2 separate regions of the Homo sapiens genome follow, and region 2 is linked to region 1. A link means that fine-mapping ties the variant in region 1 to the expression of a gene that starts in the linked region. Tissue or cell type: whole blood. Region 1 holds a variant in brackets; the other region holds the start of a gene. All regions are shown on one strand. Distances are between the middles of the regions.

What was found.
Region 2: SETD9 starts here. The variant in region 1 is fine-mapped to the expression of SETD9 in whole blood (INTERVAL, PIP 0.95).

Annotation. Positions count from the first base shown.
Region 1 is chr5:56,853,445-56,869,779 of GRCh38, forward strand. MAP3K1 (mitogen-activated protein kinase kinase kinase 1) reads left to right here. Exons shown (of 20, transcript NM_005921.2): 2 at 3,156-3,306; 3 at 6,271-6,471; 4 at 11,290-11,490; 5 at 11,896-12,012; 6 at 12,385-12,533. It also overlaps the pseudogene LOC124901214. Among named protein-coding and RNA genes, the nearest start is that of MAP3K1, 46 kb to the left of the region's middle. The variant C/T (reference allele first, on the strand shown) is at 7,206.
Region 2 is chr5:56,903,494-56,917,342 of GRCh38, forward strand. SETD9 (SET domain containing 9) reads left to right here and starts at 6,103. Exons shown (of 6, transcript NM_153706.4): 1 at 6,103-6,250; 2 at 7,676-8,043; 3 at 9,518-9,641; 4 at 10,381-10,496; 5 at 11,368-11,473; 6 at 13,322-13,849. The coding sequence starts at 6,153. The coding sequence ends at 13,409. RefSeq lists enhancers at 5,739-5,828, 6,619-6,668, 6,764-7,585 and silencers at 5,979-6,188, 6,369-6,578.

The DNA of each region.
Region 1 (16,335 bases):
ACTGCCAGAGTTAATAAGTGATCATTCACTTAATATATGTTCATACTTATTATGAGCCAGACATGCTTAGATGTTAGGTGTATAGATGGCGATAACACGTGGTCCCCTCACTCATGGAGCTTACAGTTCATAAGAGAGGAACAGTTTGCAAACTGCATTAACCATGTTAAAGGAAAAATACAAGTGCTGTGAAAGAATGGAACTGGGAGTTCTTAATTGAAATTGGGAAAGTCTCTGAGGAGTTGAGGAAAATCTAGAGAGTGGGTAGAAATTAGGTAAAAAGTAGACAGAGAAGGAAGCAGCCTGTCCAGAAGCCCTGAGTAGGAAAGATCTTGGGGTTATTGAGGCAGTGAAGAAGGGGGGTTGCAGGTCTGATGACAGGAATTGAGGTGAGACCACGAGGTGCAGGGCCACTTAGGTTGGGCTAAACATTTTGGATTTTAGTCTAAGCCCGGGGGGAACCACTAGAGCATTTTAATGGAGGAAGTAACCCTGGCTGCACTGTGAAATCTGGGTAAGATTCAAAGTTAAAGAAGCCTCGTTAGGAGCCTGTTGCTAGTTCAGAGCAGGTTTAAGAGCAGCTTGACCTGGATGGGCGTGTGAATGGAAGACATATTTTTTAGAAGATTATTTGACAATATTATCAAAAGTCTTCATTTGTGTACATTTTTAACCCAGCATTTCCATTTCTAGGTGTTTATTCTAAAGAAATAATTTAGGCCAAATGTGGTGTAATCCCAGCACTTTGGGAGGCCGAGGTGGGTGGATCACCTGAGGTCAGGAGTTCGAGACCAGCCTGACCAACATGGTGAAACCTCATCTCTACTAAAAACACAAAATTAGCCAGGCGTGGTGGCACATGCCTGTAATACTAGCTACTTGGAAGGCTGAGGCAGGAGAATCACTTGAACCTGGGAGGCGGAGGTTGCCAGTGAGCCTATTGCACCATTGCACTCCAGTCTGGGCAACAAGAGCTAAACTCCATCTCAAAAAAAAAAAAAAAAAAGAAAGAAAAAAGAAAAAAATAATCTCATAGTCCTTAAACATAAATAAGGTAAAACGAAATTTAAAAAAGAATCTCAGATGTGTGTAAAAGTTCAGCTACTAGAATGCTCATCCCTATTATTTATGATAAAAGAAATTGGTCTAAAAGATGACAGTATTTTCAAACAAGTGGAAAGGAAAGAGACACATTAGACTTTAAGGAGGCCATGCCATCCAGAAAGATTTGTTTAGACAAGGAACATCCTTTGTGTGTTTGACTCAGGGCCAGGAACAGAAACTGAAAATCCATAGCAGAGAAGAGATACTCCTGAAACAGATTTGGGGGAAGAGAGATAGCTAGGACCAGAGGAAAGACTATCAAGCACCTTGGTCTAGGAGTGCAGGAGTTTCTGGTATAAAAATGCACTGCAGTTCCACTGTGAGGCTTATTTTTTGGAACTAGCCTGGGAACCAAACCACCTCTTGCAACATTGTTACTGGAGGGGGAAAGCGCTTTTAATACTAAAGACTTGGAAGTGAATTTTTATTATGCAGTCACCACATAAATTCAGTTGCCTACAAAGCTGAGCCTCCTGGAATACCAACTGAGCAGGATGGACTTTTTTGGAAGACACTTTATCCCCTGTGTTCTTCACCCCTACCTCTCTTTCTCTGCCTTCCTCTCCCTCCTCCTTTTTCTCCTCCTCCTTTCTTCTCTGCCTTCTTCCCTTCTCTCCATCCCCCCTTCCTCTTTCCTTCTTTCTCCTCCCTCCCTCTCTTACTTTCTTCTACACATCCCCTAATATTTATATTTTATAATCAGCATAAAAAGCAGCCAAGCACATATAAGTAAATTAGATAATCCTCCTTTTTTCATACTTTTTGAAAGTCTCATATTGCTTCTATATAACAGTATTTGTGTGTGTATGTGTGTGTAAGGAAATATTTTACGCTGTGGTCTTAATGCCTATTTGCAAGTTTCAAACCAAATGTTATGTATTCTTTGTATTTCTAAAAATGTCTAGGCCAGTTGCTGATACAAAGATGTTTAATATGTTGCCTTCTACTTTCCTCACAGTCTTGATGCTTCAGTGAAACGGGTTAACCGTTTCCTTTCTAGTGAATATTTTTTTTTAAGTAGTTTCTTCTTCCTTTGGCTGATTCTCTGAAGATCGTACTTCATAGTTGTGATTAGCTGGAAAATTCCTAGAGGAGTTTGAATTTGTCTTTGTAGTAAACTTGAGGTTCTTGTTTTTGGTATTTCCTTGAGTATTTCCTTTTCCTATCAGTGTAGAAAAACTGTTCTCTAGCTTTAAAGACTTTTCAAAATAGTTACTGAAATTAGCTTAGTATTTTTAAAGTTGTTACTAATCCCAAGGTGCAGTTGCTTTAACTGCATCCTTATAAATCAGGTTTTCAAATCTATGCATATCGTGTATGCATGTATGCTCATGTGGATATGGGTATATTTTAAAATTAGTGATTTTCGTGAGCTTGATGCTTTGCCTGTTAGGCTTTGTAGAGTTAATTCTCAAACGTTCTTAGTTTAGAGATTGTTTTATTCTGGTAAATCCACACCATTTTATGGAGTAAAGATCAAATGTTTGTACTGGATAATTTTTATTCTTTATAGAGTACCCCAAGTGCTTTGTTATGAAGTCACTGTTCTATGAAAATAAAAATTTAATCATGTAGGCTATGAAAAATTGTTTTGGGGTCATAGATGATGTAGTTAAGTTTCACTTCACTTATTAAATATTTATTGAGCTTATTTCAGATAAATCAGCATATCCACCAGATTCTATCTGTATTGACTTAATTTATTGGAAATCCTGGGATAAAAGTGTAGTAATACACCCTTCTAAATATTTGTTATTTGGGTGGTAGAATTAAAAACAATGCAGTCTTAGTGAATATATTTGTTAATATAGTGCTTAATGTCTTGGGATTCATTTTGTTAACTACAGTGGAACATAGGTCTGCATGATATATGTCAGTAGTATATAATTCAGAATCTTTTCAAGCTTTAAGTCATTTGGGGTTTTTAGCAGTTATCTTTTTTATTACATGTCCGTTGGAAGTATAAAATAGAACCATCCATTCTGTTTGTTCTTGGAAATTATTTTTCATATATACATTTCTCATTTTATTTGTTTCTGCCTGCATTTTAGTCGTGAGATGGAGAATAAAGAAACTCTCAAAGGGTTGCACAAGATGGATGATCGTCCAGAGGAACGAATGATCAGGGAGAAACTGAAGGCAACCTGTATGCCAGCCTGGAAGCACGAATGGTTGGAAAGGAGAAATAGGCGAGGGCCTGTGGTAAGTGGCTATGGGTTACCAGTTATAAGGAAGAAAGCATAGGAGGAAATGGAAAAGTAAGCATAAATAGATCCTCTTGTAAGCTTTTCTTCTTCATTTTAAATGTAGTAGTTTTCTTTACTTGATATTGTGGTCATTTGGAAGAAACCATAATTAAAACTGTGCTCATTAAACAACTTAAACTATTCTGGGAACTTAACTGTTGTGTTTGGTGGAGGGGTAAATGCTTAAACCAAGACTGCCCTCTCATGTCAGTATCTAAAATCCTTTCATTGGAGTTTTATACTGTACTTGTAAATTTTAAAAAGAATTTTTCCAGTTTATTTTAGATGTTTTATCTCTAAGACAGGATCCAAGGATCTTAATTTCAGAAATCTTCTAGGAAAGAAAACATTTAATTGCAGTAATTCATAAGTGTAATGATTGGGTTTTCACATGCATGCATAAGATGTGCGTTTCTCCAACTTTGTTACAGTGTCAGCATGTTATCCTCATTTGACATGAAAAAATGTTTAATAGACCTATGGGGATTAAGATAAATTAAAAATGTGTGGGGTTTGATGAAAGAAAATCTAGAGTCCTAGATTTTAAAAAGCAGGGATACTCTGTCCTTTGCTATAGGTATAAGAATATATATTCTTATAAGAATACCATCATGAAATGTGTGTCTTCATTCTTACAAAGGAAGAAGTATTACAGTATCCTAGCACTAATCTCTCTCAGCAAGTTTTTATTTTGTTCTTTTAAAACAGATATGGCAACTTAAAATTCATCTAAGCTTTGACAAGGGTCTAAATACACCCCTGCCAAGTGATTGTCTGCCCTACATTCATCCCATATGCCTATTTAAGTTTACATTTAAATTAATTAGATGTAAATAAAAGTAAAAATTTAGTTCCTCAGTCTCACCAACTACATTTCAAATGCTCAGTAACCACATGTGGCCAATGGCTACCTTTTAGGCAGTGCAGTTTTAGCACATTTTCACTGCCTCAGAAAGCTCTCTTAGATGTGTAGTACTGACTCGTGTCTGACTTAAATAACTCAATAATCCCTGTGGCTTTCGATATCCTCATCACTGAGCTGCAGTCTGTCAGGAATATTTTACCCACTGGTTCTCATTCTAACCGATGGAATTATACAGAATAAATCTAATTGTTCCTTTCCATACCAGCACTTGGTAAGTTATTATGGGCCCGTGAGTCCTTGTCTTTACAGCTAAGTTTCTACATTTCTTCCATTTATTACTCACGTGAGGTGGTATGGTGGGAACCCCTCACCATTTTAGCTATTCGTGCCAGAAGGTGAATATGAAGAAATTAAGGATTTATCTTAGAGAAGAGAAAGTGCTATTGAAACATCTTGTAGAATGTTGGCAGTTAAAAGGGCATATTACTACTCAATCAATATAAAGAACTTTTGAACAAGCAGAGCCATCTGAAGTTTGAATGTGCTGCTTTCTGAGCTCCTTTAGATGGAGGTGTTCAAACAGCCTAAATCTTTTGAGAATACCGTAGGGCATAAATCACAACTTTTTAAAAATGAGCCAGCTATTTGTTCTTTATTATACATGAACTAAGAATATCCAGTTCTCTAAAACAAAATTTTGGTTTTTATACTGTTCACTTTCTAGCAAGTACCAAAGTACCTTGTCTGTATATAAGACATGAGTGAAGAGGGAGGAGATGTGTGGAATAAGATGCATAACACATAGTCCTTAAGCTTAATTATGCCACCCTACATTTTATGATTTACGGATTTCGTATTATCCTTAGGAAGTTTACTGTTTACTTGGGAGGTCTGATTTTGTTTGTTTTTATACTTTAAGTAAGTTGTGTCAAATCATTCTTGAAACATAAAGGGTAAATATCTCCAAATGGGAAAATTAGACTTATACATAATAAATAGAGTAATACATGAAATATCACAAAGCAACTTGTGACTAGGTGCCAAATGTGTGGGATGGGCAGAAGAGCAATAGGGACTTAGGAAAGAGAAGGAATGTCTTGCTGGTAGACTTCAGGGAAGTTTCATAAAAGGAAGAATTTTAACTCAGCGTAGAAAGATGGGTAAATTTTCCTCATGTGAAGGTGTACTGCCTGGGGTGCTGCAGGCTGGAGATGAGTATTAAAATAGGAGGAGAGTGAGTGAAAGCACAGGAGGAGGAAGGGTCAGGCAAGTTTGGTGAACACAGCAACTGGCTATAGAACAGGAGCAGTGGGAGAAAGTCCAGAAAGGTCTGCTGAGCTTCAGTTGTACAAAGCTGTGGAGTTTGGCCTTTGGTCATGGCTAGATTAGGTCTGAAAGCCTTAATTAAAAAAAAAAAAAAAAAAAGGCAGGTCTTGTAAACTGCATTTCTGCTTGAGAAATTGATCTTTAAACTTCTAGTCTCTTTTGGTTTTCTGAGATACACATCTAACCTATTATTGTAATATAACATTGTAAAGAAACACACACACAAAGCAGGGAAAATGATTGCATAGTGATCAAACTATTTGAAATTATGCCCAGTGTTGTTTCAAGGTCCTACATTTTGTAAAAACAAATAAAAACGTACCTAGATCTTTGATCTAGTAGTTGAATAAGTTGACTGTAGAAGTTATGAGTGCTTATTTTTCACATTTGTTTAATCACCTTTGATTGTTGCTTTTGAGTGTTAAATGAGTTAGGGTATATAATAACAAATAATACCATTTCTACAGTTTTGTATGCATTACAAAATTGTAAGGGAGGAGGTTGCGTTTTAACTAGTGTTAAATCCTAAATGACTGAAATTTGTGCAGGTAAAAATAATCTTTTACATTAATAGCTTAAAGTAATAATAAAAGTTGATATATTGTCTGGTATACTGGTATAATATTTCATAACAAAAACTCATTAAGTGTATTTCCTAGTCTATGATATTTACATTTACTTACCTTTTATATTTTTAAGTAATCAAAATATTGGAATACTTTGATTCAGGTGGTAAAACCAATCCCAGTTAAAGGAGATGGATCTGAAATGAATCACTTAGCAGCTGAGTCTCCAGGAGAGGTCCAGGCAAGTGCGGCTTCACCAGCTTCCAAAGGCCGACGCAGTCCTTCTCCTGGCAACTCCCCATCAGGTCGCACAGTGAAATCAGAATCTCCAGGAGTAAGGAGAAAAAGAGTTTCCCCAGTGCCTGTAAGTTAATGTTACAACAAATATGTTAGTTTTTATAATTTTTAGCTTCATTTATAACAAAGAAAAGACTGGCCAGCCATCTGTTAGAACATCAGTTTTCAAAATATGATCTGCAGACCCCTGAGGATGGGGGGGGTGGTTCCTGAGACCCTTTCTGGGGTCTATTAGGTCAAAACTAATTTTGTGATAAAACTGGGATGTTGTTTGCCTCTTTCCCTGCATTGATATTTGCAGTGGTGGGTAAAGCTACTGGTGCCTTTTCCCAATTTAAGGCTACAACTGTAGAAACTATATTCATTATTGCTATGTATCAGCCATTAAAGAAAAAAATGCCAGTTACACTTGATAATGCCTTTGACAAGGAAATATAAATTAATTTTATTAAATCTTGACTCTTAGTAAATACGTGCCTTTGTAATATTGTGTGTGATGAAATGGGATGCATGCATAAAGCACTTCTACATACCAAAATCCAGTAGTTTCTAAAGGAGAAGTATTTGTGCGGTTGTTAGAGTTGCAAGCTGAACTAGTTATTTCTTTCATGGAACATGAAATGAGTGACCAACAAACTATGATTATTTAGATTTGGGTATTTGGAAGACATTTTTCTTAAGGTGAATTAAATGAGACTGTCACTTCAAGGAAAGCAACTTAAGGCTGGGAGCGGTGGCTCACATCTATAATCCCACCACTTTGGGAGGGCGAAGTGGGCGGATCACCTGAGGTCAGGAGTT[C/T]GAGACCAGCTTGGCCAACATGGTGAAACCTCATCTCTACTAAAAATACAGAAATTAGCCAGGCATGGTGGCAGATGCCTGTAATCCCAGCTACTCGGGGGGCTGAGGCAGGAGAATCGCTTGAACCCAGGAGGCAGAGGTTGCAGTGAGCCTAGATTACACCATTGCACTCCAGCCTGGGCGACAACAGCGAAACTCCATCTCAAAAAAAAAAGAAAAAAAGAAAAGCAACTTAAGTATTTTTTCACTAGTGTTAAAAGTTGAGATGTCGAAACAAAAATTAGAATTTTAGAAAGCTACTATCCACCACTATGAGCTTGACAGCCTCCCAGTGCTTAGACTTTTCTGATAAGATTGGTGATAACAAATGTGATTATTTTCATGCTGTATAATGAAATATGTGAACATTTGGAAGATCTGCGTAACTTAAGGAACCAATATTTTCCACGTGATCAGTGTATGATAATAACAAAATTATTCATAGGTAAAAGATACATTCAAAGTGTAAAATACACCATTTGGATTTTTAATGTGCCAGTAGGAAAAGTTTGTTGATGTGGTTTCAGATTCCACATTACAACTGCCTTTAAGAAACCATTTTTTGAGCTTTGGTATAGTACCAAAGAATATTCATCATTATTTGAACAGGCAGTGGCTCACACCTATAATCCTAGCACTTTGGGAGGCCAAGGTGGGCGGATCACTGGAGGTCAGGAGTTCAAGATCAGCCTGGCCAACGTGGTGAAACCCCGTCTCTACTAAAAATACAAAAATTAGCCAGGCGTGGTGGCAGGCACCTGTAATCCCAGCTACTTTGGAGGCTGAGGCAGAGAGAATGGCTTGAACCCGGGAGGCAGAGGTTGCAGTGAGCCGAGATCACGCCACTGCTCTCCAGCCTGGGCGACAGAGTGAGACTCCTAAAAAAAAAAAAAAAAAAAAAAGGGGCTATTAAAATACTCCTTCCTTTTACATCTACGTATCTGCATGAGGCCAAACTTTCTTTCATATACTTTAATCAAAACATCATATCACAGCAGATTGAATGCAGAAGCAGCTATGAGAATCTTAGCTGTCTTGTATATTAAGCTAAACATCAAAGAAATTTGCAAAAAGATAGGTGGTAAATTCATGTGAGAGAGAGACTTCTAGTAGTGGAAATGCATGTTAAGACTCACTTTCTAACTTTGAAGAACAAATGATTGAATGGAAAAATGGTTGAGATAGTGACCACAAGAGGAGTTTGGGTTTTTTTTTAAGATCTGGAGTTATTAAGGTACATAAATTCGTTAAAAAGTACATTTAAAGCAAAAACATTTTACAGTAAAACCTGATGCCCAACAGTAGTTGTTGGCTCTATGTTAAAATACCTTTAAATTAACTATTAATTTTTGTTAACTTAAAACAATAATCAGTTACTAGCTCACGAATCTGCAGATTGGGCAGGGCTCAGCAGGGGTGGCTTATCTCTGTTCCTTGTGACATTCTCTGAAGATGAAAGGTCCAAGACTGCTTCTTCACTCACATGCCTATTGCTTCAGCTGGGATACTGGAACACTTGGGGGGCTGTTGGCATCTCTTCCTCCTAGCACGAAGACTGGGTTGCAAAGAGTATTGTTTCGAGAGGCAAGTCTCAACATGCAGGCTCTTCTCAAGCCTCCACTTCATTGTGTTTGCTAATGCCTTATTGTCCAAAGCTAGTTGCATGCCCAAACCCAGAATTGATGTGATAGGGAACTACACAAGAATGTAAATACTGGGAGGTATGGTTCATGGGGGCCATCAAAATGAAAGTTTACAACAAGTATAAACAGAACTGTCTTCCTTCCCCACACCCCACCCCCAAAACCCACTTTGGGCATATATGCTAGACAAAGTTACCCCTCATTCTTTTTAACAGTTACATAGCCTTTCATTAGCTGGATAAATCATGGTTTATTTAATGAATGATATACTAATGAACATTTATAATCTTTTTAACCTTTTGTTACTGAAAACAGTGCTTCAAAAGTATTTTTATACGTATGTCATCTTGTACATCTGTGAGCATGTATCTGTGAACATATCCATAGGCTGGATACCTAGCAGGTCAAAATGACGTGTGCATGCATAATTGGCTTTTTTTGTTTGTTTTTACTTTTTAGTAACTGCTTTTTTAAAAATAATGGCTTTATTGATGTGTAATTCATCTACTGTACAATTCACCTGTTTAGATTGTACAATTCAGTGTTTTATAGTATATTCACAGGGTTGTGTAGCCATTATTACGGTCGGTTTTTAAACATCTTTATTACCCCAATAAGATATCCTAGACCTATTAGCAGTATTAAAGCAAAATAGGTAGTAGGTAGCCTGGGGTTGTTTCTACACCTGGAAATGAAACCAACCTTTAGCCAATCACAAACAGCCAGCCAGCCTATTTGTTATATAACTAGGGACTTTGCATAATGCCATGCCCAAGTAAGGCAAACACCTAGCTGTAGCCAATCAGCTGATTCCTTTGCTTTGCTTTGCTTTGTGTTCAGCCTGTAAAAGCTGGCTGTTCAAGGTGCTAGATCAGAGATCTCTGAACTTGCGGTTTTGAGTACCACTTGGTTCATGAATCATTCTTTGCTCAAATAAACTCTGTTAAATTTATTTTGTCTAAAGTTTTCCATTTAACAACAGTCTCTCCCAACCCTAGGCAACCACTAATCTATTTTCTCTATATATATAATTTGCCTATTCTGGACATTTCATATAAATGGGATCACTTAATAGGTGATCTTTTATGACTGGCTTCTTTCACTTAGTATCATATTTTCAAGGTTCATCCATGCTATAGCATGTGTTAGTACTCCATTTTTAATTGCAGAGCAATATTGTATGGATATACCACATTTTGTTTATCTATTAGTTGATGGACATTTGAGCTGCTCCTGTTTGGTGGCTATTATGAATAATGCTACTGTGAACATTTGTGTACAAGTTTTCAGGTGGACATATATTCTCATTTCTCTTGAGTTTATACCTAGGAATGGAATTGCTGGGTAATACGTTTAACATTTTGAGGAACTGCTATACTGTTTTCCAAACCAGCTGCACATTTTACATTCTGCCAGCACTATATGAGAATTCTAATTGCTTTGTGGTCTTGCCAACATTTATTACCCTTAACTATTTAATTAGGGATCCAAAAAACTGGAATTTCCACTGGACATTGATGGAAAGACCAAGTTCTAGGAAAGTTAGTATAGTGAGAGTGTTATATATTATCCTCACCCTAGGAGCGTTTTTGTCAGCTTCCACTAATTTGTTTTTATTGAGGAAGAGTCTGCAGAGTGTATGTTGGGAGGCATTCCATGGCAGCGTTTGTAAATTTCCTGTTAAAGAAGATTAATAAAGCCTTCAATAGATCCCAGGAAGTTGGATTTTTAGTTTTTACTACTAGACACAGCATTCTGCCTGCTTATGATATATACTTTCTATGCTTTTTGTTTTGGTTTATATTAGATGTTTCAAAGAACTCAAATGTTAATAGAATAATTTATAAAATTACCACATGGTTGTCTCTCTCAGCCAGATATTTATCAACATTTATGGGGATGACTGAGATTTTAAAAGTTCACCTGAGATGAGTATGTCAGACAAAATCATTTAGCCTTTGTTCCATAATATTTTAAATCTGACATTTTTTCAGACTATAATCTGCCACATGACTGTCTTGTATGATCTTCTTTGGATAATAGTTTCTTTTTTTTTTTTTTTTTGAGATGGAGCCTCGCTCTGTTGCCCAGGCTGGAGTGCAGTGGCACAATCTCGGCTTACTGCAACCTCCATCCCAGGTTCAAGTGATTCTCCTGCCTCAGCCTCAGAGTAGCTGGGATTACAGGCATGTGCCATCACACCCAGCTGATTTTTTGTATTTTTAGTAGAGATGGGTTTCACCATGTTAACCCGGATGGTCTGGATCTCCTGACCTCATGATCCGCCCTCCTCGGCCTCCCAAAGTGCTGGGATTACAGGCGTGAGCCACCATGCCTGACCGGATAATAGTTTCTTAATTAAGAAATGAGAAACGTACCTAATAAAAAAAAATGTTGTGAAGTTTCAGAGTGGCAGAATCACACCACCCCGAAGAGCCCCTTCACCAGATGGCTTCTCACCATATAGCCCTGAGGAAACAAACCGCCGTGTTAACAAAGTGATGCGGGCCAGACTGTACTTACTGCAGCAGATAGGGCCTAACTCTTTCCTGATTGGAGGAGACAGCCCAGACAATAAATACCGGGTGTTTATTGGGCCTCAGGTAGGATTCGTCACCATTTTATACTTTATTAGTAGTAGTATATGGTACTACCTCAAATTTATATACTATAATGTTCTTAAATTTAGATCAATTAATTCCCTATAGTAAACAAAGTTAAACTTAAAATGTATTTTAGGCTAATATTTTTCTTTAATGTATTTATGAGGTTTTACTATCTTAATATACCATAGAATAGAAATTTGATCTATTTAATAAATTCAGTGAAAATGAAAGATTAAATCATGGAAATAGCTGTAGATTTTTCTTATATACAAAGATAATGAAGAATATGAATTAATAGAAACTTTAGTATAAAAAGTTGGAAATATTGTAAAAGTGATAAATTTAGAAGTTCTTGTGAACCACAGATGTATTAACCTATAGGTTTTCTTTTTAACTCTTTAGAACTGCAGCTGTGCACGTGGAACATTCTGTATTCATCTGCTATTTGTGATGCTCCGGGTGTTTCAACTAGAACCTTCAGACCCAATGTTATGGAGAAAAACTTTAAAGAATTTTGAGGTAGTTTTTAATAAATGCTTAGAGTAAAATTGTTAGCATATTCTTAGGATATATTCTTAAAATTTATCCTTCACTAAATTTAGGCAGTGACCATTTTAAAGGTGTGAAGGTATGTAAGAATTAGTTGATGCTTATAAATAGTTCTCATGAGATATTTACTAAACTTTTTCTTCTAGCTTGAAAAAAACAAACACTGACCTGCTGTAAGAATGTTGTCCTTAGTAAAAACTATAATGTGTTCTTATTTTTGAAGCTCTTAAATCAACTTTATGAAAAACATGCAAATTAAAGATAAATAATTCAGCCTCTAGAACTCTTCATATGTATAATTATGGCACAAATATCATTGTTACTGTCTTTTTCCAATGTTAGGTTGAGAGTTTGTTCCAGAAATATCACAGTAGGCGTAGCTCAAGGATCAAAGCTCCATCTCGTAACACCATCCAGAAGTTTGTTTCACGCATGTCAAATTCTCATACATTGTCATCATCTAGTACTTCTACGTCTAGTTCAGAAAACAGGTTAGTACTTTTTAAGGATTTCAAACATTAATCCAGTGTTACTTTTAATTTTAGGGGTAATTTTTTATATCTACTTGTTAAGTTGCTCTAAAATGATTTAATTATTGAATCTTGGCTTTCAAGTTAAAATCAAGGGTGAAGATACTAAAAGTTCGCTGGGCATGGTGGCTCGTGCCTGTAATCCCAGCACCTTGGGAGACTAAGGCAGAAGGATTGCTTGAGCCCAGGAGTTCAAGACCAGCCTGGGCAACATAGGGATACCCCAACTCTACAGAAGTAAAATAATTAGCTGGGAGTGGTGATACCTGTAGTCCCAGTTACTCGAGAGGCCAAGGCAGGAGGATCGCTTGAACCCAGGAGTTCAAGTCTCCAGTGACCTATGATCGCACCACTGCCTAGGTGACAGAACAAGACCCTGTCTCTTAAAAAATATGTGGGTGTGTGTATGTATGTATGTCTGTATGTATGTATGTATGTTAAAGGTCATGTGAGTGTGTGTGTGTATATAGACGTTTTGTGCTAAAAACTACAGCATTCATGTGAATCTTCTTTCTGTTCTGTATATTGCTTTATTGGTTTTAGTGTAAAAATTAGATTTTTAAAAATTAATCCACAAAGGAGTGCTGCTTCTCTTACCAGGGCACCTTCTATGTTATTCCCGAAGTGCCCAGTTTGAGAAGCATTGTTCTGAGTGGTTAAATCCTGTCTTCATCCTATTAATCTGTTAAGTATTGTAACTACCTCAAAATTCATGAAGAATGAAAAAGTGACAGGGTCGTAACAAGGGTGCAGTGAAGAGAAGAGAGGTTTTCTTCATCTGTGGAAAAAGTAAATGTTTGAAGAATTTTCTTAATTTTGATTAAATGAAATAATTTTAGAATCCTAGAGTTTTACGAGTTTTTAGACATTGAAGATTTTCTAGTTGGCATGTCTCAGTGACACAGCGATAAGTGAAGCCAAGAGGTTATGCAGCTCATTTGAGGAAAGGTATAGCCAGAACCTGGGTATCTTTGTTTTACCCCTCATCTCTTCTAAATAAAATGAAAAAAATGAGCTTTATTTCTCCAGCCTCCTGAACTCCTAGCCCCAAGCATTCCTCCCACCTCAGCGTCCCAAAGTGCTGGGATTACAAGTGTGAACCACCACACCCAGCTCCTTTTTCCTTTTGAGTGACATTTCTGTAACTTTTTACTGTGGAGAAAAATAACAGATGCTTAAAACCAAGTAGTCAAAATAGAAAGTTTCTCTCTGAGGTTAAATATATATATTTGGATTTGCATATCCATGGGGGGAATCACAAAAGTTATCTTGGTTACTGAGATTGTACTGTACATACATAGATAGATTTTTGTTTCGTATAACCACTATTTTTATATCTAAGATCAATAAAAAGAAAATACAGAGGAAATTTATCTGGAGGTCTGATTACATACAATTTTAAATGTTATGCCCAAAACAATAATAAAAGAATTAGGATAAACAAATTTAAAATTCAATTGAAAATGAAGGGCATAAAGAGAATATCCACCAAAAAAGAATTTTAAGGGGCTAAGAAACACAAAAACTGTTCAGTCAACCTAATAACCGAAGAAATGTTCATTTTTTAAAAAAAGATACCAGTTTTTATTTACCGAAATAATGAAGACTTTTTAAATGATGTAATTCAGTTATTGTAAGCATGTGCTTGATCGTATGTAAAGCCGTATAGCCTTTTGAAGAAAAAAGGAATATGGCTTTTAAAAACATTTATATTCATTGATCCAGTAAATGTTCTTCTTAAGTAAAAGTTTAATCTGAGAAATGCAAAAGCCTCACATATATCATATATGACTGTTTCTCATAGTATTATGGTGAAAAAGTAGAAACAGTTTAAATATCCAACAGCAATTGAATGATTAAATTAGCATATGCCCATGTTACAAATGTCATGTAGGCATTAAAATTATGCTTTTGGAGAACGTTGAATGGCCTGGGAAAATGTCGATAAGTAAAACCAAATCTAGGTTATAATAATATATTATGCATGAACCCAGTTTTATATAGAAAAGGTATTACAAGTATGTAAAAATCGGAAGGAATAAAAACTTCACTGGTTATTAATAGGAGGTGCTATTATGGGTAACTTTTTTTAAACTTTAAATATTTTGTGGTCCATTTGGTCTCTTTTAAAACTACTCAGCTCTGCCCTTATATCCTGAAAATAGCCAAAGACGATATATAAATGAACGGGATGGCTATGTTCAGTAAAACTGTATTTACACAAGTAGTCCACAGGCTGATTTGTTTTCCTTATAAGTTCATTACTCCCTGCTCTATACTTGTAATTTTGCTTCAGAAAAAACTATGCTAAAAAAAATCTGAAACGTCAAAAAAAAATGAGTACAAAGATGTTTGTAATGGTTTCTTTCTTTCTTTTCTCTTTTTTTAGACGGAGTCTCTCTCTGTCACCCAGGCTGGAGTGCAGTGGCGTGATCTTGGCTCACTGCAAGCTCTGCCTCCCGGGTTCATGCCATTCTCCTGCCTCAGCCTCCCGAGTAGCTGGGATTACAGGCGCCTGCCACCATGCCCAGCTAATTTTTTGTATTTTTAGTAGTGACAGGGTTTCACCATGTTAACCAGGATAGTCTCGATCTCCTGACCTCATGATCTGCCCGTCTCAGCCTCCCAAAGTGCTGGGATTACAGGCGTGAGCCACCGCGCCCGGCCGTAATGGTTTCTTAAAATGTAAAAATATGGAAACAGCTTATATGTCCAACATTAATGGATACTTAAAACAGGATCTATCTAGTCAGTGGAAAATTATGATGGCATTAAAAATTATGTGGTGGAAGCAACCCAGGTGTCCATCAATAAATGAATGGATAAAATGTGGTATATACACATAGTGGAATATTACTCAGCTTTACAAAGGAAGGAAGTGTGCTACAACATGGATGAACCTTTAGGACATTATTCTAAGCAAAATAAGCCAGTCACAAAAAGACAAATATTGTATAATTGCACTTACATGAGATACTTAGTCAAAACCATAGAGACAGAAAGTAGAATGAGCCTAGGTGGGAGGATATGTTGACCAGCCTGGGCAACATAGTGTGACCCTGTCTGTACCAAAAAAAAAAAAGAGAAAAGAAAGAAAAGAAAAATTAGCCAGGCATGGGTGGCATGCCCCTGTGGTCCCAGCTACTCAGGAGGCTGAGGCAGGAGGATCTCTTGAGCCCAGAAGTTCAAGGCTGCAGTGAGCTATACTTGTGCCGCTGTACTACAGTCTGGGTGACAGAGCAAGAACCTGTCTCAAAAAAATGTAGAATGGTGGTTGCCAGAGGCTGGAGGAAGGAGATCATGGAAAATGGTGTTTAATGGGTATAGGGTTTCAGTTTTACAAGATGAAAAGGATACTGGAGACACATAGTGGTGATGGTTGCACAGCGTGAAGGCATTTAATACCACTCACGTGTACACTTAAAAATGGTTAAGATGGTAAATTTTATGTTTTGCATATGTTGCCACAACAAAAAAAAGAATTATGTATATGAAGAGTTTAAGTGCAATTTTATAATAAAAATTTTTAAAATATGAAATAGTGCATATATATACATAAATGATCTGAACAATGCTTACAAAATATGTACTTGGAAAAAAGATGGGCAGGAAATACCCCGGAATGGTATTCTTTTTGTTGTCAGAGAAGTATTTAATAAGTTGCACTTATAATTTGACTAAATTGTGAAACTTTATTTTCCTCTATGAATAAGCTTAATTTTGGTATAATTATTTGAAGGGTTAGTTGACCTTGGATTATTTT
Region 2 (13,849 bases), 49 kb after region 1:
CTTCTCAACGCACTCAAACACACTCAAACCTATCACCAAAACTGCTTTTGACCAAGTTATGAGGGTTCTGCATTTATTGACAGGTGACTTCATGGTCACTGCTCAATCTATGTTCTTTGCCATCCCCCTTTTCTTCCTAGGTGATCTCATCCAGGGCTCTGGCTAAAGACTCTATCACCAGCTATGGCTTCGGAGCTCCAGATGTGACAATATTCAACTAGATACTTGACATTTCTTGGAGGCATTTCAAAACTTCACCTTCCCATATCGAATCCATTGGCAAGTCCTGTGAGTTCCTCCAAAATAGAATCCTAATCCATCCACCCTCTCCATCTCCACAGTTACCATTCTAGTCTAAGCTACCATCATCTCTGCCTAAACTACTGTATTCACCTCCTAATTGGCCTTACCGGTGTGGTGATTGCCCACCTTTTCACCACATAATATCCAAAGTGATCTTTTTAAAACATGAATCAGATCCTATTACCCTCCTGCTTAAAACCCTCCAGTGGCTTCCCATTACACTAAGAATCCCAACTCCTCACCAGGACCTACAGGACTTGGCATCTTCTCTTTCTCCCTGACTTCATCTTTCACTTTTTCTTACTTACCCTGTTCCATAACCTTATTTTCCCTGCTTGAACATGTGAAGCTCCTCCCCACCCATGCTTGTCCATTTGCATTGCAATAAGGAACACCTGAGACTGAATAATTTATAAAGAAAAGAGGTTTATTTTGCCTCACAGTTCTGCCAACTGTATGAGAAGTGTGGCGCTGGAGCATCTGCTCCTGGTAAGCCCTCAGGAAGCTTCCAATCATAGCCGAAGGCAAAGGGGGAGCTGGTGTATCACATACAGAGAGAGGGAGCAAGGGAGAGAGGAGATGCCAGGCTCTTTTCAACAACCAGCTCTCGCATGAACTCACACAGCAAGAACTCACTCATTGAGGTGAGGACAGCACCAGGCCATAGGTGAGGGATCTGCCCTCATGACCCAAACACCTCCCACTAGGCACATCTCCAACACTGGAGGTCACATTTTAACATGAGATTTGGAGGGATAAAAACATCCAAACCATATCACTACCTCAGTGCCTTTGCATTTCCCATTGGGAGAATCTCCCCGTGGATATTTTCAAGTTCGTTGCCTTCTTATTCAGGTCTCAGCCATTCATGTCATCACCCTATCGAAAATTGATACCCCTAATCCCACACCATGTGACCCACATAAAGAGAGTGGGGTCCCAGCAGGAAACAGATGACACACACAAATTAAGACATTTGAAAATAATTGTGTAACAGCATGGACAGAATGAAGGGAAACCACAAGGATAGTACACAGAACTGTGGAGTTGGCAATAATAGAGTGCTGTTACCATCCATAGGCTTGAATGAAACCCGGAAACACATAAGACTACATGGAGAGGACCTTAGGTTGGAATACAGCCAGTACACAGAGACCAGCACCTCACTCTCCTCTCTTCTTGCAGTTTCCTGCCAGTGCTCTCCACTGGTTGAATCCACTTGGAAGCAGGAAGATGAGGGACCTTGTTGATGTGCAAGCCAGTCAATCCCCCAGGGTGTGGACAGTGGATCTGGACAGGCTACATAAGATATCCAGCCCACTCTCTTCTCATTATCCTGCCTTGTTTTCTTTATTGCATTTATCACTGTCTGACATTATTTATGTGTTTACTTAGTATCTGTCTCCTGCACTAGAGCTCGGGACATAATAGAAGTTCAATAAATTATTTAAAAATCAAGTTAATCTCATTTTGAACTCTGGAAGTTACAATCTGTCCAGGCATACATGCCTTATTTATAATATTTAGGACACTGATGTTAAAGATGATTTTACCAGCCAGGTGCAGTGCCTCACGTCTGTAATCTCAGCACTTTGGGAGGCCAAGGCAGGAGGACCGATTGAGCTCAGGAGTTCAAGACAAGCCTGGGCAACATAGTGAGACCCCATCTCTACAAAATTAAAAATTAAAAAATTAGCCAGGCATGGTGGTGCATGCCTGTAATCCCAGCTACTTGGGGAGAATAAGGAGGGAGGATTGCTTGAACCCAAGAGTTTGGAGGCTGCAGTGAGCTATACCCTGTCTCAAAAAAGAACATTTTTCCTACACAGTAGTTTTGTGATTTATAGCATAAATGGGTTTTAAATGGAAAACACAGCACATACATTCTTATATTCAATTGGGTAGAGTATTTGGGGAAACTGGAAACAACAGGAAGTGGGAAAAAGAGTCAGAAGAAGAGGGTAATTTTGGATAGCAGCATATCTCCATGCCCATCGTGGCCAATCTTTTGCTTGCTATCTATGATATATTATAAAACTGTCTGTCAAATTGTCATTCTTCATTCATCTGTATTTAAAAGTTATGTAAATCAATAAAGACAGATGATTTAAAAGACACTATGAACCAATGACCTACTTAATATTTATAGAACCCTAAACCCAACAACTACAGAATATACACTCCTTTCAACTGAACACGGTATATTCACCAAGATAGAGTGCATGCTGGGACACAAAACAAGTCAATAAATTTAAAAGAATTGAAATCATTCATGTTTTCTGACACAACAGAATTAAACTAAACACCAGTTACAATAAGATATCTAGAAATCCCAAATATTTGGAAATTAAAAACACATTTCTAAATATTTCATGGATTAAAAACATAAATAACAAAGAAATTTTAAAAATATTTTGTACTGAATGATAATGAAAATACAACATATCAAAATTCCTGAGATTTGGCTACAGTAATGTTTGGAAGGATAGTTATAACTTTAGATGCTTCTATAGAAATGAAGGAAAGACCAAAATCAGTGACCTAATATTCTATTCTAAGAAACTAGAAAAAGAAGAGAAAAATAAACTACTTTATGTTTAAGTAGAAAACATAAAATAATAAAGATAAGAATATGACTGGTCACGGTGACTTATGCCTGTAATTCCAATTATTTGGAAGGCATAGGCAGTTGGGTCACTTGGGGACCAGTTCAGGCAACACAGTGAGACCCCATCACTAAAAATAAAAAAAGAGAGAAAAAAGATAAGAACAGAGGTCAACAAAATAAAAAATAAGCAGGGAAAAGTAATAAAGCCAAAAGCTGTTTCTTTGAAAAGATTGACAAACCCTCAATTACAATGATGAAGAAGAGAACACAAATCACCAAAATCAGGAACAAAAATGGGCTATTACAACAGATCATACAGACATTAAAAGGTTAGTAAGACAGTATTTATAAACAACTTTATACCAAGATATTTGGCAACTTAGACAAAATGAACAAATTCCATAAAAATATAACTTACCAAACAACACAAGATGAAACGGACATTATGAATAGCCCTATATCTTTAAAATAAGTTGAATTTATTATCAAAGAAAATTACAAGCCCAGATGTTTTCACAGGCAAATTCTATCTAAAAAATTTTAAAACATACTTCAAAATAAATGTGGGATGACAATAGCATATATTAAAACCTACAGGATCTGACCAAAGAGGTACTCATAACTGAGTAGTTATGTCAGAAATCCAAGGACGGTCAACATTTGACAATGTGTCATCATTCACTACATGAATAAATGAATAGAAACTATATGGTCATCTCAATAAGCAGAGAAAAGCATTTGATATTTATCATTCATTTAAAATTTAAAACAATAAAAATTTTTGGAAAGTCAAAAATAGAACTTTAAAAAACTTCATAAAGTATACATACCTACTAGAAAACTACAGTAAATATTAAACTTGAAGGCAAAACCTCAAAAATAGAAGAATGCAGTAGACTTAAACCAATATGGGTAGATCTTCAAGATGTATTTTTGAGGAAATCAAATAAGTTGTGGATCCTTATAATATTTTAACAATACTCACACAAAATACTATGTATTTTCTATAAAAACATACGCGGGTATGTAAATACATAAAAATAAAACTGGCAGAAAACACACCCGTCTGATAACTTCTGAGAAGCGCCAAGTACCAGGATTGGTGGAAGTACAAGGTACGGTGTTTGGTTAAGGGTGACTTGAGCTTTAGCTACCATGTTTCTATTTGTATAACTTTAGATGCTTCCATTAGAAAAGAAGAAAAGATTAAAATTAGTGACCTAATAACCTACTTTAAGAAACTAGAAAAAGAAGGTTTTCATTAATTACTTAGCTAACCAAAATTTAATTTTAATACCATAAATATAAAAAAACTGTAAAAATATACAAAAACTGATTTTTTTCTTTTTTTAGACAAGTACATTACCATAGGTAAAGATTAAACTAGTTCTTTTGGGTTCTTTGTTAAGTTTGGAGACTATAAAGAAACTTTCTTGTATGCCACTTATTAATACATCCTGGAACTGAATTGACTCCATTTAGCAAGTCAGGTAAATCTAGATTATGCCAAATTATCAAACAAACACAGAGTCTGAGAGAAAGCCTCTAGAGTTTGCTAACATTCTATATGATATGAACGAAATAGAGACATTGGTAGATACTCTTTCTCTTTATTTCTTTCAGAATAGAACAAATTAGTCCCGCAGCTACTGGCGATTGGCTGAATTTTTTTTTTTTTTGAGACGGGATCTCACTCTGTCACCCAGGCTGGAGTGCAGTGGCGGATCTCGGCTCCCTGCAACCTCCGTCTCTCAGGTTCAAGCGATTCTTCTGCCTCAGCCTCCTGAGTAGCTGGGACTACAGGCACGTGCCACCAACGCTCGGCTAATTTTTGTATTTGTTCTTTTTTAGTAAAGACGGGGTTTCGCCATGTTGGCCAGATTGGTCCCGAACTCCTGACCTCAGGGGATCCACCCGCCTCGGCCTCCCAAAGTGCTGGGATTACAGGCGTGAGCCACTGCGCCCGGCCTTGGCTGAGTTTTTATTAGATCTGAGCCGTTCAATTTCAATAGTTTAGGATCCAACCTCACTCTCAGGCAAAGAATAGAGGAAATGATACCAACGTATTTATCTGTCAATAAACACTTGGTGATTTGAATATGGTTAAGGGATTCCTGTAGTTTGCCCCCCTTAAAACTGAACTTTGTCCAAACCTGTTCTAAATATGTGTGTGCGTGTGCATGCATCTGGGTGTTGGGGAGGAGCGGTCGTAAAGTTCCTTTTAAATTTCACCTATGGGGGACTACTTCCCACCTCATCCTATGAAGTCAACATTAGCCTAAATACCAAAGCCAGATTAAGACACTACAAGAAAACTACGAAACAATATCTCTCACGAACACAGATGCAGAACTTCTAGACAAAACGTTTCCAAATTGAAGCGAAGACCATATTAAAAGGACAAAAGCACCTCAGTGGTTGCTTGGGGACTGGGGGAGGGGCTGGATTACTATCTTGGCTGTGGTGTCGAAAACCTATCAAATTGTTCACTTTAAATATGTGCAGTTTATTGTATCCCAACCATTCCTCAACAAAGCTGTTTTTCAGAAACATTTGTCCATGTAGTTTTGCCTTTGAATGGTTGGGTCAATGAAGAGAAAAACGAGTGAAAACAGGGAATCATGACACTTTGTTTTTTTACGTGTAAATATTCGCAAAACGCCCAAACTGGTAACTTTGGGAACACGGGTTCACGCAGAAGAAGGGCTGCTGTCTGGGGAGGACTGAAACTCGGGTTCCCGAAGTCGGGCTGCTCTGGGGCCACGGAGAGAAGGGGAGAGAACGTCGAGGAAGAGGCAGAGCTCAAGTGGACGGAGGATGGAACACAGAGCGCGGCCGGGACAAAGGGGCAGGCCAGACAGCCGTGACAGAGAAACTAGGCGGTCCGCTCCTGGGACGCGGTCTCGGGGGCGGGTTCGCCCCTGAGGCCCGGTGACCCTTCGCCCGCAACCAGGGCTAGCGCTTGTGTGCGCCCACGGAAGCACCCGAGCGACCGGAGAAAGAAAAAGTGGTCAAGGGGACCTCCTTCCAGCTCTACGCGCCTCTCATTCAGAGAGGTGAGGTCAGGAAAGGGGAAGGACGAAGCCCCAGAGCAACAGAAGTCAGGCGGTGCCAGGAACACTGAGAGCGGAGCCAGGGGAAGGCGGCCGAGCGCGGCCCCCTCTCCTCCCGGGCCGGGGCGGGCCCGAGGCCTCGATCCGCCTTCCCCGCGCCGTCCTGGTCACGGCCCCGCGGGGCAGCCATGCCTGGCCGTCTGCTGCGGGGCCTGTGGCAGCGATGGCGCCGTTACAAGTACCGCTTCGTTCCCTGGATCGCACTGAACCTAAGCCACAACCCGAGGTGAGAGGGCGGGACGGCAGAACGAGGGGCACCTGCCTTCGGTTCCCAGACGCCACCACGGCGGCGGGACGCAAAGCGGAGAGCCTGAGGCTGACTGCCGGCCTGAGATGGGCGGGCCCGGGTGGGCAGGGACTGAGGTGGGCGGGCCGGGTGGGCGGGGACTGAGGCCTCGGAGGGGTTTAAGGAACGCGGGCCAGAGGCGGGCGGGGCCGAGGTTGGTGGAGTCCGAGGCCCGCTGGAAGCCTGAAGTGGGCGGTGGCTTCAGGTGGGCGGGGCCTATGGCCTCTTTCCCAGTGTCCGCTGCGCTGCCGGGCCCGCGAGGCCGAGCTCGCCAGCCGGATGTGTCGCCTGTTCTTCCCTGTTGCGTTCGGCACTGACTGGGGAGCTTGTATCTGGGCAAAAATGGAAACTTTTTAAAAAGACTGCCCTTACCGCGTGAGAGTGCGTGGCTTTTTCTCCACCAGGGGTTAATTAGGTGCTTGAACTTCCTCAGAAAAGCCAAGCCAGGGTTTATTTTCATAGTTCATACAAGTACTTCACGTGGTTAAAGAAGCCCATCCCGGCTGTGAGAATAGCGTGCAGTAGCTCGCGCGTTAAGAACGGGCAGAACGCCACTCAAAAGCACGTCGGGATGGTGGGTTTCGGATTGGGGTGAGTCCCGCCGGCGTTATTAAGGGCGCACCAGTGATCAGCTCAACACCGTGCTCACCAAAGAGGCCGACCGGGCCTCCCTGAAGTCAGTGTCCGACAAATAGGGAAACAAAGCGGTTTCCGGAAGGTTGCATGCTAGGGAAACAGGAGATCAGTTGTATCATGACTCGGAACCGTGAGGCGGGAATTACAACCTTTTTGTTCAAGTAAAAATAATGCAGTTAGTACAAAAAGATAATGATTATGGAAATAAGAGGTGCAGTCATTGAAGACGTTAGTCGTCCTGGAGGGAGTGTCACAAAGTATACGATGTTGAATTTGTCTTTGAAACTACAAGGCCATTTTTAAAAAGCCATTGAATGTGAGGTCATTCATTCTCATTGTGATGACATTCAGCTTGGCTGTTGGGTGTAGTACGGGAAAGAGCTGAACTTCGTTTCTGCCTCTGGCTCTCCCACTTACTGGCTTTGGGACCTTGAACAAGTTCCCTAACAATTTTGCTTTCCTTGTCTGCAAAAATGGAATAATGTAAGGACCCCACAGCATGTGGTATAGAATGGGCCTTTCATAAGTACTGACTACTTGGGTGGGAAGTGTTGGGAGTTAGCTAACTAGAACTCCCTCAAACAATTCTTTTCTGAACTTAGTTTCCAGCCCTCCACACACATGAGAATAAGCTTATAGTTCCTTAAGGCCAGGAACCCAGAAGTTATGCAGGTAAGTTTGGCTTTTATCAGTTGAAGGGTAGTGAATAGAAACTTTTCCCATTTTCAGGACCCTCCGATATGTTCCAGAGGAATCCAAAGACAAAGTTATCTCAGATGAAGATGTCCTAGGAACATTACTGAAAGTTTTCCAGGCTCTATTCTTAAATGATTTCAATAAACAATCAGAAATCTTGTCTATGCTTCCAGAATCTGTTAAATCAAAATATCAAGACCTACTGGCAGTTGAACATCAAGGGGTGAAACTGCTTGAAAACAGACATCAACAGCAAAGTACCTTTAAACCAGAAGAAATTCTTTACAAGACTTTGGGTTTCAGTGTTGCCCAAGCAACTAGCTCATTGATTTCTGCTGGAAAAGGTGTCTTCGTTACTAAAGGATTGGTACCAAAAGGCGCAGTCGTATCTATGTATCCTGGTAACAGCACGATTAATATTATACTTTGCCAAGCTTCTTACGTATTGATAAACATAAGTTCAGTAACATACCCAGCCTTGCAATCCTTAGAGTAAGGGATTAAATTGGAAACTCGAGTTTCCATAGATTTTTGCAATTCTAATTCGGAAATTAACTGTTTGTAAATTGTTTTGTGTTAGAAAGTATCCTGGAGTATTTGTTGGGATAAATGCACTTTTTCTTTCAAGGAAAGCTTTCCTGTCAACGTTTAAATTTAGAACATAGTATGACCCACTTTGACAAATTACTTAAAAAGCACTAGAGAAACATGTCAGTTTGGTTTAATTGATAGCTAAGGATAAAAATGGTATGGATAGGCTCACGCCGGTAATCCCAGCACTTTGGGAGGCCGAGGCGGGCAGATCGCGAGGGGTTTGAGACCAGTCTGGCCAACATAGTGAAACCCTGTCTCTACTGAAAATACAAGAAATTAGCCAGGTGTGGTGGTGTGCACCTGTAATCCCAGCTATTCAGGAGGTTGAGGCAGGAGAATGGCGTGAACCCGGGAGGCGGAGGTTGCAGTGAGCCGAGATTGTGCCATTGCGCTCCAGCCTGGGTGACAGTGCTAGGCTCCATCTCAAAAAAAAGAAAAAAAAAAAGCGTACGGATCAAAACATAAAAGACAACATTTAAACCCATAAGTCACCGAATGAAGACCTTCCTGCCCTTTCTACACTTGGAAAGTAAGGCAATTTCTTGGCACAAGATCATTAACTAGAATGCTAAATAGACTACGTTATGTGTTAAACTAACATTATATTATTTGGTATAGTGGAAAGTGTGTGTGTGAATATTTGAGTCAGATAGACCCAGGTTTTTAAAAATTCATTCTCCTGTTTTCTAATTTTACATCCCCAAACAAGGGAGTTTCAGTTTCCTGCTGTACGAGTAATCTAATTTTGTAAAGACTAAATAGAATAAATAAATTAATACTAAAAGAAGTTTAATAAATAGATTAACATGCCTGGAACATAGGAAGCACTCGGTAAATATTTTCTCATTTCGTCTTTTGCCAGTGAAAGGAGAAACAGCCTTAATGTCAGACTCATCTATTCCCATATGTGTCTACATTATTTAATTATTAGCAAAATAAATTTCTTCAAACTCTTTAGATGTTAAATCACATTCTACTTAAATATATATGTGTGTGTGTATATATATACACATATACATATAAATGTGTATATGTATATATATGACTTTGTAAAACTGAGCCTAAAATGTGATGTTCATATTATCATTAACCAAGATAGCCATATTCTGTTTTGCTGTGTGGATGAGTTGGTTCTGTGCTCCATCTGCTATTGGGCGTTCACGCTTTAAGAGGGAGAAAGTAACTAAAGAGAATGTGATTATATTCCAAAGAAGGGTTCTTATCGCAGTGTTTATGATTTTTCATGTTGTTATCATATTTCTTTGTCTTGTTGTGTAATAGGTACAGTATATCAGAAGTATGAGCCGATCTTTTTCCAGTCCATTGGAAATCCGTTTATTTTTAGATGCCTGGATGGGGTACTCATTGATGGGAATGACAAAGGGATATCAAAAGTTGTGTACAGGTAAGTGATGCCCATGTTCAAATTTAATTATAGGAGACAGAACCGCACTTACCACAATGATTATGACTAATAGCATTTGTACTTTATTTATTTTTTATATAAAGAGATGGGGTCTTGCTATGTTGTCCAGGCTGGTTTTGAACTCCTGGCCTCAAGCGACCCTCCCATCTCGGCCTTCCAAAGTGCTGGGATTACAGGCTTGAGCCACCACACCCAGCTCAGCATTTATGCTTCATTTTATTATTTTTTTTACTTTTTTTTTTTTTTGAGACAGAGTCTTGCTCTGTCGCCCAGGCTGGAGTGCAACAGTGCGGTCTCTGCTCACTGCAACCTCTGCCTCCCGGGTTCAAGTGATTTTCCTGCCTCAGCCTCCCAAGTAGCTGGGATTACAGGTGTGCACCACCAGGCCCAGATAATTTTTGTATTTTTAGTAGAGTTGGGGTTTCACCATGTTGGCCAGGCTGGTCTCGAACTCTAGACCTCAAGTGATCTGCCTGCCTCAGCCTCCCAAAGTATTGGGATTACAGGCGTGAGCCACTGCGCCTGGCCAGCATTTATACTTTGAATAAAATTCTGTTTAGATAGCTGCTGTGTAACAACTCAGTTGCCCTACTGATTATACTAAAGTCTTTTTTTTTTTTTTTTAAGAAAAAATGCACTGGTGTAATTCTAGGGTTTTGTATTTTAGGATTCTATTTTAAGATACAGATCCATTAGCTAATGCTTTCACTTGTTTCAGATCTTGCAATGGGAGGGATCGACTCGGCCCTTTAAAAATGAGTGATAGTACATGGCTAACGTCAGAAATTCATAACCCTCTGGCTGTGGGACAGTATGTCAACAATTGTTCCAATGGTAAGAAGGCATCATGGGGCTGTGAGATGAGATATATCAATGGCTAATTCTACTCCTTTGTCATATGACTGAGTGCCAAGGGCAGTTGAGTATAACATATAATAAGCTAGTCAAGTCCTTAAGCAACTCTCACTTTTGGGGGATGATATTAGAGAGAATTAGGGGAAATCTTGATATACATTATTTAGAATTGTTTAATTTACTATTTTTCTTCTGATTTTGCAGTGAATATAGGCAATTGATAACTCCCCTTTGATCATTATTATTTTAGCATTTTAAAAATAGAAATTATTATGTCAGTGCTTCAATATAGCCTTATAGATTAATGGCTAGACTAGTATCTGCTTTCTGTTGCTAAGTTTGTGAGTCCCTATCTATATCTTCTTTAGGAGTTGACTTTCCCATAGGTAAAAGTTTGATTGTTTGAATACATTTAACATGGGCTTTGGCGTTAGTGAGAAACGAAGTCCAAGCCTGACTCTTTTATTAGTATTTAACCTTTAACATTTCTGAGCCTCTATTTCCTGATATATAAAAAGTAAACAATAAAACATACATATATGTTTATTATGTATGTTGGTAGATATTATCTAAACATATGTTATTATATATGTTGTTTATGCAAAAAGTAATAAAACATGTTTTATATATGTCTTTTTGAATATTTTATTTTATATATTTATGATTTACCATATATATCTGCAAATATATATACGTAAATAAACTCTGACAGTACCTGGAACATAGTAGTAATTATTTTGATCATGTTTTGATAATTTAGAAAAACAGACATTGAGTGTCATAATTCAATTCTGTTTTCCATGACCTTGTATAATGGCTCTTTTTCTAAAAATGATGTGCTTGTTCCTAGACAGAGCAGCTAATGTCTGTTATCAGGAATTTGATGTGCCTGCAGTTTTCCCTATAGAACTGAAGCAGTATCTTCCAAACATTGCCTACAGCTATGACAAACAAAGGTTCGTTTGCTAAAAGAGCATTTCATATCTTCTGCTTATGCTGTACTTAAAAAAATATAGAAGAAAAAGCTATGTAGAATTTGGGGTAAAATTTTTTTTTTAGTGAAAAATTATAACTCAGATTTTTATGTTCACACCTTAACGTGTTAATGTAGGCTTATTTGAAATTTAAAATTTTCCTTTAAACTAGCTCATTCTGTTTATTTTTACCCATTTTTATTCTATGGCAATACTTCATAAGTATCCACCTTAAAGTTTTTTCAAATAATTCTGTTGTTTTTCCTACCTACAAAATCTTCAAATATATCTTTACTTTAATCATTTATAATATCATGTTCTCTACCTTATAAGAAAGCATCCAATTGAAGAAAGAGGCCAAATTACACTATGATTCCTTTGCCAATTTCACTATTAGGTTCTTAATAATGAAACTAAATAAAAAAGGACTGTATTCAGAAGACACATATTTTAACATAGCATTTATTTCCTGTTCATTCAGTGGAAAGTCTACTGAGAATATTCAAATAACAATTTTAAAATATAGGTAATTCTGGAGAGCTAAGAGTTCTTTCTTAACAGTGCTGTAGGAAGATACAATCTTTGTATTATTTTGTTGAGTTGCTAGCAAACTTTATTTTATATAGGACCTATTAAATTGTCCTTCTAAGATGAATGACATTTAAAACATGAACTATTATTTATACTTAAAACTTGAGGCCAGACACGGTACCTCAAGCCTGTAATCTCAGCACTTTGGGAGGCCAAGGTGGGTGGATTGCTTGAGCACAGGAATTCGAAACCAGCCCAGACAACATGACAAAACCCCTTCTCTACAAAAAATACAAAAATTAGCTGGGTGTGGTGGTGTGTACCTGTAGTCCCAGCTACTTGGGAAGCTGAGGTGGGAGGATCCTTGACTTGGGAGGTGTATGTTGCATTGAGCTGAGATGGCACCACTGCACTGCAGCCTGGGTGACAGAGCCAGATCCTGTCCCAAAACAGGAAAAAAACAAAAACCAAAAACTTGATAACTTTTGCTTCTCTGCATGTGTATGTTTGTGTGTTTAACTATTAGCTTTTCTTAGCCATATACTCCGGGGCATGATGTTATTAGAACTTTGAATGTATATATGTAACAATATCTAGGCTGGGTGCGGTGGCTCATGCCTGTAATCCCAGCACTTTGGGAGGCCGAGGCGGGCGGATCACAAGGTCAGGAGTTTGAGAACAGCCTGACCAACATGGTGAAACCTCATCTCTACTAAAAATACAAAAATTAGTCAGGCGTGGTGGCACGCACCTGTAATCCCAGCTACTCAGGAGGCTGAGGCAGGAGAATCGCTTGAACCCGGGAGGCAGAGGTTGCAGTGAGCCAAGGTCACACCACTGCACACCAGCCTGGGTGACAGAGTGAGATTCCATCTCAAAAAAAACAAACAATATTTTATGATGTCCAGAAAAAAGCATTTTTTTAAAACTCCAACTAATTTTAAGTAATGTTTTCATTTTTCAGGATATAAGATACAAATGAATGCAAGAAAAACTATAATGTCATTTTAAAATCCTTTTTGTGATACTAGTTTTGGGGGCCTAAACTTAGAAACAATGTTTTCAGAAGAAGTAGTCAGTTGTATAAACATTGATTTGTGATTTTTTAAATGATATAGATATACTCTTTAGAATACCTGCATCAGGAATAAGAACTATTTCCTCATGGAAATCAAATGCATAAACTAAAATGGAAGGAACCTGAGTAAAGTTACCTCTATAAAAGCCATCTTGGTTATATTAAAAATATGAGCTTATATTTGTTAATGCTCTACCTTTTGTATATCTTTTTGTTTTCAGCCCACTTCGATGTGTTGTTCTTGTCGCACTTAGGGACATCAATCAAGGAGAAGAGCTTTTTTCAAACTACTACACAATTGTCAGCTAACTCTGTGAATCAGAAATTATTAGGTTTTCTACTCAGCTATTAATTCTAAGTGTTTTTTGTTAATCACTTCTCTGAGTTCTACCTGTAAAACAAATATTTTGAGACTTAATTGGAATAGGAATTTCTTATGTTTTTGTTGATATTATATTTATGTTCCAATTTCATGATAAAAGCTACTTGCTTCATTACAATTTCAAATTTGTAATGCAATTCCAAGTTTAATTGGTTTTCACCTAAATACACAATAGCTTATTAAATTAAAACCTACTCTTTGAACTTATAATTTCAATTTTTCTTTTGTTTATTTTGTAAGCTCTGTGGTGGTTTATAAAATTGTAGCCAGGCATCAGCAGTTCTTGTAGTACTGCTGATGTGTACAAACTTCTGTAAAAACTTTATTTTTACAGAATTGAGTAAAAAATACCTATTGTGTTGCCATG